Linked DNA regions of Homo sapiens. The protein of the gene in region 1 purifies or fractionates together with the protein of each later gene. This does not show direct contact. Each region holds a gene or a part of one and is shown on either strand. Other genes may lie near its edges. The genes, in order: ENG and ACVRL1.

The links.
Region 2: the proteins of ENG (region 1) and ACVRL1 purify together in Homo sapiens (affinity purification with western blotting; 3 studies listed by BioGRID and IntAct, with this or other methods). This does not show direct contact.

What each region holds. Positions count from the first base shown.
Region 1 is NC_000009.12:127,853,299-127,856,898, forward strand, and holds the start of ENG (endoglin isoform 1 precursor), read right to left. Parts: upstream 1,361-3,600; 5' UTR 1,058-1,360; coding exon 991-1,057; intron 1-990. UniProt on the Homo sapiens protein: Vascular endothelium glycoprotein that plays an important role in the regulation of angiogenesis. Required for normal structure and integrity of adult vasculature. Regulates the migration of vascular endothelial cells.
Region 2 is NC_000012.12:51,905,628-51,909,735, reverse strand, and holds the start of ACVRL1 (activin receptor type-1-like isoform 1 precursor), read right to left. Parts: upstream 2,233-4,108; 5' UTR 2,041-2,232; intron 1-2,040. UniProt on the Homo sapiens protein: Type I receptor for TGF-beta family ligands BMP9/GDF2 and BMP10 and important regulator of normal blood vessel development. On ligand binding, forms a receptor complex consisting of two type II and two type I transmembrane serine/threonine kinases.

The DNA.
Region 1 (3,600 bases):
TTCCCCTTCCTCCCCACACTCTCAGCTCATTTCTGCCCCTCTTCCCCCAAATCTGTCAGGAAGCCCCTGGATGCACAGGTGGGTCAAAGGATGTCCACAGGACCGGCCAGCGGCTTGAGGTGGCCGAGGGATAGGGAGTGGGACATGGGGCTGGGGGTCCCTTGCTCCTCACCGCCCCTCCTCTGGTCAGTTTCAGAAAGCAGCAGAGGCCATGACCCCTTGGAAGAGCCCCCAGGCCAAGGAGCCCCACAGAACCCCTAACCTGGCCTGCACCCACTCCTGCACCCTTTCTGGGGATCAGGGAGGTAGGAGGGAGGCAGGGCAGGGCCCTGCAGCCTTGGCCTGTTCAAAGGGTTTGAGGAGCTGCCCAAAGGCCCTGGGGAAGGTGAGCTGGAGGAACTTAAAGCTAAAAATAAAACAACACAGAAGTGGCCAGTCTGCCAGAGCCCTCTCTGCAATGATCCCTCACCACCCACCTCCTCAGCAGCTCTGAGAGGGAAGTCTGTTCTCTTCCCCACTTCGCTCAGAGGCCCGAAGGCAGTCCCCCAGGATCACACCACAAGGAAGTGCCTATGTGAGATTTGAACCCAGAGACGGTGCTCAGAGCCCAGGCTGTGGGCCCTCCTTCCCATCCATTCCTCATGGGGAAACTCAAGGCCCAGAGAGGCCAGGAAACTCTCCCGTCGCTGCACAGCATTCTGGGACCTAGGCTTCCCGGGGAGTAATGGAACGCAGCTGGGTGAGCAGACGCCAGAGACCAGGGTTAAAGTGAAAGAGTCAGCCCAGTTTGCCCGAGGCTTTCTTTCAACACTGAAAGTCCTGCATAACCATTTAGTTCCAGCAAACTGGGAGGGTTGGTGACCCTCCAGAGCCCCAAGGATGGCTCTGCTGGGCGTGAGCTCAGGATACAGGAAGGAGGCCGGGAATACTTGGGGCCTGGTCCGTGCACCGGAGGCCGAGTCTCCCCACCCTGGGTCCCTGGACACCTACTTGTGGGGCTGAGGCTGCAGCTGGCCAGCAGCAGGGCAACAGCCAGAGGGAGCGTGCCGCGGTCCATGCTGTCCACGTGGGGGCCTGTGCGCTGGGCCTTATCCTGTGTCCAGTGGCAGGGCTGCGGGCGGGCACCGGGGCCGGCGTGGGCTCGCACGGGGACCCGAGGGGAGCAGGCGGCCGGAGCGACGGCGTCCCTGCTCCAGCCTTCTGGGGTGGCGGCCGAGGGGTCAGGAGAAGTGGACACAGGGACGCGGGGCTGGGCTGGAGTTGCTGTCCGAAGGATGGGCGGGGAGGGGGTGCTGGGCTCCAATGGATGGCAGTGACAGCAGCAGTCCTGGCCCCAGGGCGCAGATGAAGGCTGTGGTATGACCGGCAGCAGGGAGCTCCTGGCTCATCCAGCCCGGCCGGCCCAGGGAGGCAGGAAATGCGCTTCCTTAGAGAAGGGGCTGGGCCAGGCCGCCTGCCAACCGGGTAGAGGAAGTGCCACGGGCTTTGTCACTGGGTGGGGGGCCCTGGGATGGGGGGAGGCAGTGGGGTGGGAGGGCCCAGGCTCTAGGCTTGTCTCCCCAAGCACCCCACCCTCCCATCCCACCCTCTCCAAGGCTGGTGGGTGGGACGCATCAGGGAGCCCCACAGATGAAAACAATCACCCTAACAGCCCACCGAGGGGAACTTTCAGGGGGCCGGTCTTGGCTAAAGTAGTTCCTGTAGAATTTGTGACCCACCTGAGCTCACTGATCCCATTTTGCAGATGAGGAAACAGAAATCCGATGTGTTGAGATCACTGGTTCAAGAAGATGGTAGCGCTGGGATCCTGCCCACCTCCACCACTTCACGTCTTGTCGGGCATCAAACCCGGCCTACTAAGTGCAGTTGACATGGGGCTGCCTAACAGGCAGGAAAACTGAAGCTCAGGCTAGGGAGGGAAGTCCCAAAGTGGCACAGCAAGGCGGCTAGGGCTGGCGTCTCTGGGCTCAGAGGAGCTGCCCAGGGCCACACACTTCACGTCTGACCCCTTCATGGGTGGAAAATCCTTCACCGACAAAACACAGCTCCAGGCCGAGTGTAGTGGCTCAAGCCTATAATCCCAGCACTTTGAGAGGCCGAGGCAGACGGATCACTTGAGGTCAGGAGTTCGAGACCAGCCTGACCAACATGGTGAAAACCCATCTCTACTAAAAATACAAAAGTTAGCTGGGCATGATGACGTGCGCCTGTAGTCCCAGCTACTTGGGAGGCTGAGGCTAGAGAATCACTTGAACCTAGGAGGCGGAGGTTGCAGTGAGCTGAGATCAGACCACTGCACTCCTGGCCTAGGTGACAGAGTGAGGCTCGGTCTCAAAAAAAAGAAAAGAAAAAAAAAAAGAAGACAGCTCCAAATTATGGGGACTTTAATGGCACTTCTGAAGTCACGTGGCCCTGGGTTCAAATCCGATTCTGCTTGCTCCTAGCCATGAGACCTTGGACAAGGCCCCTCAATTCTCAGCACCCCCTGTTTGCAAAGTGGGGCACGATGCCTTCCTGACCAAGCCATTATGAGATTTCTGAGGGTCAGGACACTACAGCACTGAGCCCTGGGACATACAGGAGATGCTTCCCCATCAGTGCTCCCTGAGCTGGGTGACAGTCCCCAAACTGTCCCATGTTCATTCTGCAAACAGTAAGCGCACCTACTATGTACCCACCGTGGGACTACTCACAGGTAGCACCCAGGGCCAGGCCCATGAAAGCTCAGAGAAGGAATCCTGGGCCACCTGGAGGGCCTGGTATTTAGGCCTGCCCTTTGAAAGACTGGGTGAGTTGGGATTGGGGAGAAGAAGGGGTGAGGAAAGCATGCCAGGCAGGGGTGCCAGACTAAGCAAAGGCACAGAAGCAGGAAACAGTCGGACCACCGTGAGACCAGCAGGGGTGTGGTGGGGACAGGAAGCTGGAGAGGCAGAGTCTGGCCCTGCATTGGGAGGGCCTCAAATGCCAGGACTTTGTCCTTAGGGCCACTGGGAGTCATGGAGAGTTCTTGAGCAGAAGGACGCTGGCAGAGCTAGGCTTTGAGAGGCCAAATCTTTGTGTGTGCTGGCAGGACCCACGGTGAGATGGAGCCAGAAGGTTCTTCTCCCTGGATCCACCTGCCCTGGGTCACAGGTGGAGAAATTGAGGCCCAGGGAGGGAGGAGAAGGCTGAGGCCCTGGGTGCCTCTGGAGGGAGGATGTCTGTCCAGGGTCTGAGGCCTTGCCTCTCCGTGCTTATTGGCCGGCCCGGGTGACAAGAGTAGGCCGTGTGTTTGTCTCTGCAGGAGCTGTCACAGCGGCTGGGAGGGTCGGTGTGGCTCTTTGGGTGGGGATTAGGGATAGTTTTGCTTGCCCAGCCTTGTGGCTGCCTGGCCAGTTTGCAGCCAAGCGTGGCTTTGAGGTCAAGGGAGAGTGTCCTCTCCCAGAGGGCCACCCTGAGAAGGGCATCTCCTCTGCCTTTTCCTGTAACCTCGGAGACAAGGCCATGGGCACTGCGAGGCAAAGGGTGGCTCGGTGGGGGTTCAGGGGTGGCTCTGAGGTTTCCACAGGCCCCAGACCGAGATCTGTGCCCCAGGGACAGTTAATCCAGCCCTAGGAGCTG
Region 2 (4,108 bases), on another chromosome or scaffold:
TTCAGTTTCTTGTCCATAGTCACTGAGCGTGTCTTAATAAACTTAAATTGCTGATAATAAATCATTCCTTGGTCATTGTTATTCCTCCAGTTGTTTGGGGTTAGATGAGTCCCTCAAAGGAAGAAAAAGACATGGGTCTCGGTGGACGTGTACAAATTGCCCACTACTGTTGTTATTAACGGGTGCCCTACTCAGATTTGTTTAAATGAAGACAGCGTTTTTGTTTGTTTTTAATTTTTTTTGAGACAGGGTCTTGCTCAGTCGCCCAGGCTGGAGTGCAGTGGTGCAATCATAGCTCACTGTAGCCTTGAACTCCTGGGCTCAAGTGATCCTCCCACCTCAGCCTCCCAAGTCCCAAGGGACTACAGGGGTGCAGCACCATGCCCAGTTTTATTTTTAGTAGAGATAGGGTCTCACTATGTTGACCCAGGCAACAAAGGTGGTGTTGCTGCCCAGAAATCATCTGTTTGCCATAGGCTTAGTCAAAGTCTGAGCCTCAGGTGGGGAGAGCCAGAGTAGTGGTATGCCCGAAAGGTGCTTATCAATGTTTTTCTCCCTAGCACACCTGAAGGATTGATAAAACCTACTCCCATCAACGGCAGTGGCTCAGCACAGCAGTGATCTTCACAGGGCTGGAGAAGCGCCATATCAAGCACAACCTTCTGGACTCACTCTGCACTTCAGTAGGCCTTACCCCAACAGCAGAGGAGCAGACCCAGCTGTTCATATTGGGTTGCCCTTACGATTCATCCATGTGATTTATTAGCCCTTCACAGCGGGGTGATGCAGTGGAACATCCAGGTGATGCCTGGATTTTCAGGTCTCAGGCAGACCATGGAGGCAGCACAGTGTAGCACAGAGGTTAGGGTGTGGGCTCTGGAGCATGGAGACCTGGGTTCAAATCCTGCCTTTGCCACTTAGAGGTATGAAATTTGAGACGTTACTTAAACTTTCTGAGGCTTAGGCTTCCCATCATATGTAAAGTGGGAATAATAATAGTGTTATCTCATAGGTAAAATGTAGTACAATTATTTAGCAGAGTATAAGTAGTACACAGTAAGCACTGAAATGTTATCAAGACCCCAACCATGCCATTCACCCCACCATCCAAGGAGTTTTGGACAAGTCCCATATTCATGTCTGTTTCCTTTTCTGTAGGAAGGGGATAGTAACCCCTCTTCCACTAGGTTGCGGCCAGGATTACATGAGAAAAAATATATATATCTAAGTGTCTACATAGTTAGTACTCAATCAATGGTAGCTATTTCTAACAAACCAATGAAATGGGGGGACAGGTGAGAGGACAGGTATTAGGACAGACCCTGACTCAGCCAGAAGCTGGCCATACATAGAGAGAGTGAGAGCAACTGTCCATTATGCCCCTGTCCTTGGAGAAGGAAAGAGGAGCTGGGGCAGCCAGCCCAGCCATGGGTTTCACAGCACTGGCCTCCATGGAAAAATCTGGGGTCCCAGCCTGGGGGGAGACTGGGATCCCCTTTGGCCTGGATCCTGAAGGAAGGTCGTGGCAAGGAGGTGACTGACCATGCGCGCCTAGGGTGAGACTCCTAGGTTGGAGTGATAGTGTCAGATTCCTCAAGCAACAGCTGGAAGGACTGATCTGGGAAAGGTGAGCTCTGCTGGGAGGCTCAACAGCTGTGGAAGTAGGCATTCACTCCAGGTCCACCCAGCGGCCTGGAGGACGTGTGATCCCTTCTATGTGAGTAGAGCAAGACAGGAATCCCACTGCCCATTTTATGAAGAGGGTAGGAGAACAGAGAAGTGAAGTCACTGACCCCAGGTCACCCGACTAGAACCAAGTTTCTGATTTCCAGTCCAGTCTCGTCCATTCCCCTCCAAGTCTCAGGTAGGGTCATGGGAGCTGTGCGTGGTCAGCCAGGAGCAGCTTGCCTTTCTAATGAGCTGGGACTGAGCCTCCCGCGACCACTCTGCGGTGACTCTGGGGTCCGCCCGAAGGAAGGGCCCACTGAAGCGGGGGTCAGGCCGCCCGCCACCCGGTCCCGTCCGCGGACCTCGACTCACCTCTGGGCCCGCTCTGCGGGTGGCGGGGCGCTAGCCTTCGGCGGACCGGGGCCACCTCCCCTCCACCGCGCGGCCGCAGTTGCACCGCCAGCGCTGGACGGCGGGCTGGGGTCCGGGCGCGGCCCCGGACCGGGCTGGAGCCGGGGAGGGGCTCGCTCGGCGCAGCTGGCGCGGCAGCCTCCCGGGACTGGGATGGGGGCTGGAGCAAAAATGTTTCTTATTCCAGCGTCTTCCTGCCTGGCCCAGCTCCACCACTCCCTCCTAATAAACCGTTTCCTTATTGCCCAGCTCGCCGACTGGCCGCCGCTCGCCCCTCGCTGGGGCTGCAGGACCGGGACCCACCCCCGCGCCGCTCCCAGCCCCTCAGGGCGGCCTCCCCTCCCAGCCGCCCGCAGCTCCCGGGTCGCTGGCCCGCACCCGGGCCGGGCCTCCCACATCCGCCTCCCCGAGGGGGCGGGCCTTGGACTCAGGCCGTGGGGGTCCTGTGGGGGTCCCATAGGGGTCCCGTGGGGTCCGGACCCACAGCCGTGGGAGACAGAGCCGAGACTGTAGGCAACGTCTGGCGGCCGGAGTAGTGGGTGGGGGTAGAGGGGGATCGGCTGGCAGCAGCGGAGGGGCCGCCTGGAATCGGGGCGCCGGGAAGGGGCCACCGAGGAAGGGACAGGCGGGGGTGGGACGGGGAGGGACACTACCTATCCTTACCCCACCCTCAGCCCGGGGGTCCTCGGTCTAGGAGGCTTGCAGCAATGAGGGCAGAGTTTGGGGCTAGCAAAATCCAGATGCGTTTTGACTCCGCCCTCGGGAACTCCCGACTTGGCCCAAATCCTTCAGTCCCCTCCCTCGGGCCCCTTCGTCCCCCATTTGTCCCCTCCTGTCTTCAGCAGCCTCTCCCGATCCGCACTCAGCACAGGGGTATACAGGCCCAGAGGACGGCCTTGGGTTAGCCCTGAGGATGGTTTGAGCCCTTCCTGGCCGTTGTGCAGCTGGGTGACAAAGACACCCCCGCCCCGCCAGGGACAGTCAGGATGGAGGGACACGCTGGGAGCAGCCTTGGACCTTCCCCTTCCAGGCAGGGCCCCCACCCCAGCAAATGGAGCTTTAGATAGAGGTGGGGAATGGAGCCTCCCTGGAACTCTGCTGACACAAGGCAGCTGGGGAGGGAAGCAGAATGGCTTCATACCGGCAGGGGAGGGGGACACAGACTCTTCCTGATGCTCCTGCACAGGCTGGGAGCACTGACCTCACTGCCCTGCTTTGCTCCAACCATCTAAGTACCTGCAGGACTCTGGTCTTAGTCCTAGCCTCCTGGTTATCCACAGAGACTCTGAAGTCAAACTACCTACTAGGAATGCAGGCTGGTTGTGTTACCGTAGGCTAGTGACACCTCTCCATGCTTCAGTCCCCCATCTGCTAAATAGGCATAGTAAACCGTGCCAGCCTCATAGGGTGGTTGTGAGAATAGACGGAAATGATGCTTATCTCAGCTCATAGCAAAGATGCTGGCTGGCTGAGCCTGACTCAGAGGAGGCCCTCAATGAAGGCGTTCGTTAATTAAATGAATAAATGAAAAGGCTGGGGAGGGGGTGGCCTCAGAGACACTTGGAAAGACGTGGGTATTAGAAGCAGGAGTAGACCTCTAAGGTGTCTTACTCTAATATGGGGATTCTACAAGATGAGCCAGGGACCCCTCCTCCTGCCCCGCCCCACCTTTTGACAGGAATAGAGGCTGGGGGAGATAATGGCTAAAAGCTCAGACAGGCATCAATTATTGACTGACCTCACTTCCTCTGCTGAAACCCTCCCCATCCCCCACCCCACAGCTGCTTCACAAGTTGTGAGCGTTGTGAATTCCCAGAACCCTGACACACCCAAATTTCAGTGTCAGGACAGAACTGTGTCCTGCAGCCAATAGGAAGTACTATGGGATTACGATATCTGCTCTTTCAGATTATAGCGGCCACTTGGGCCCTCTACGAGCTGGAGAACTGGGAGCCTGGCCGCGGGTCTGTCTTTCACACTCTCTCTCCCTGCTCCGCTATGGCTTCTGGTCAACCTTTTCCTCCCCCAA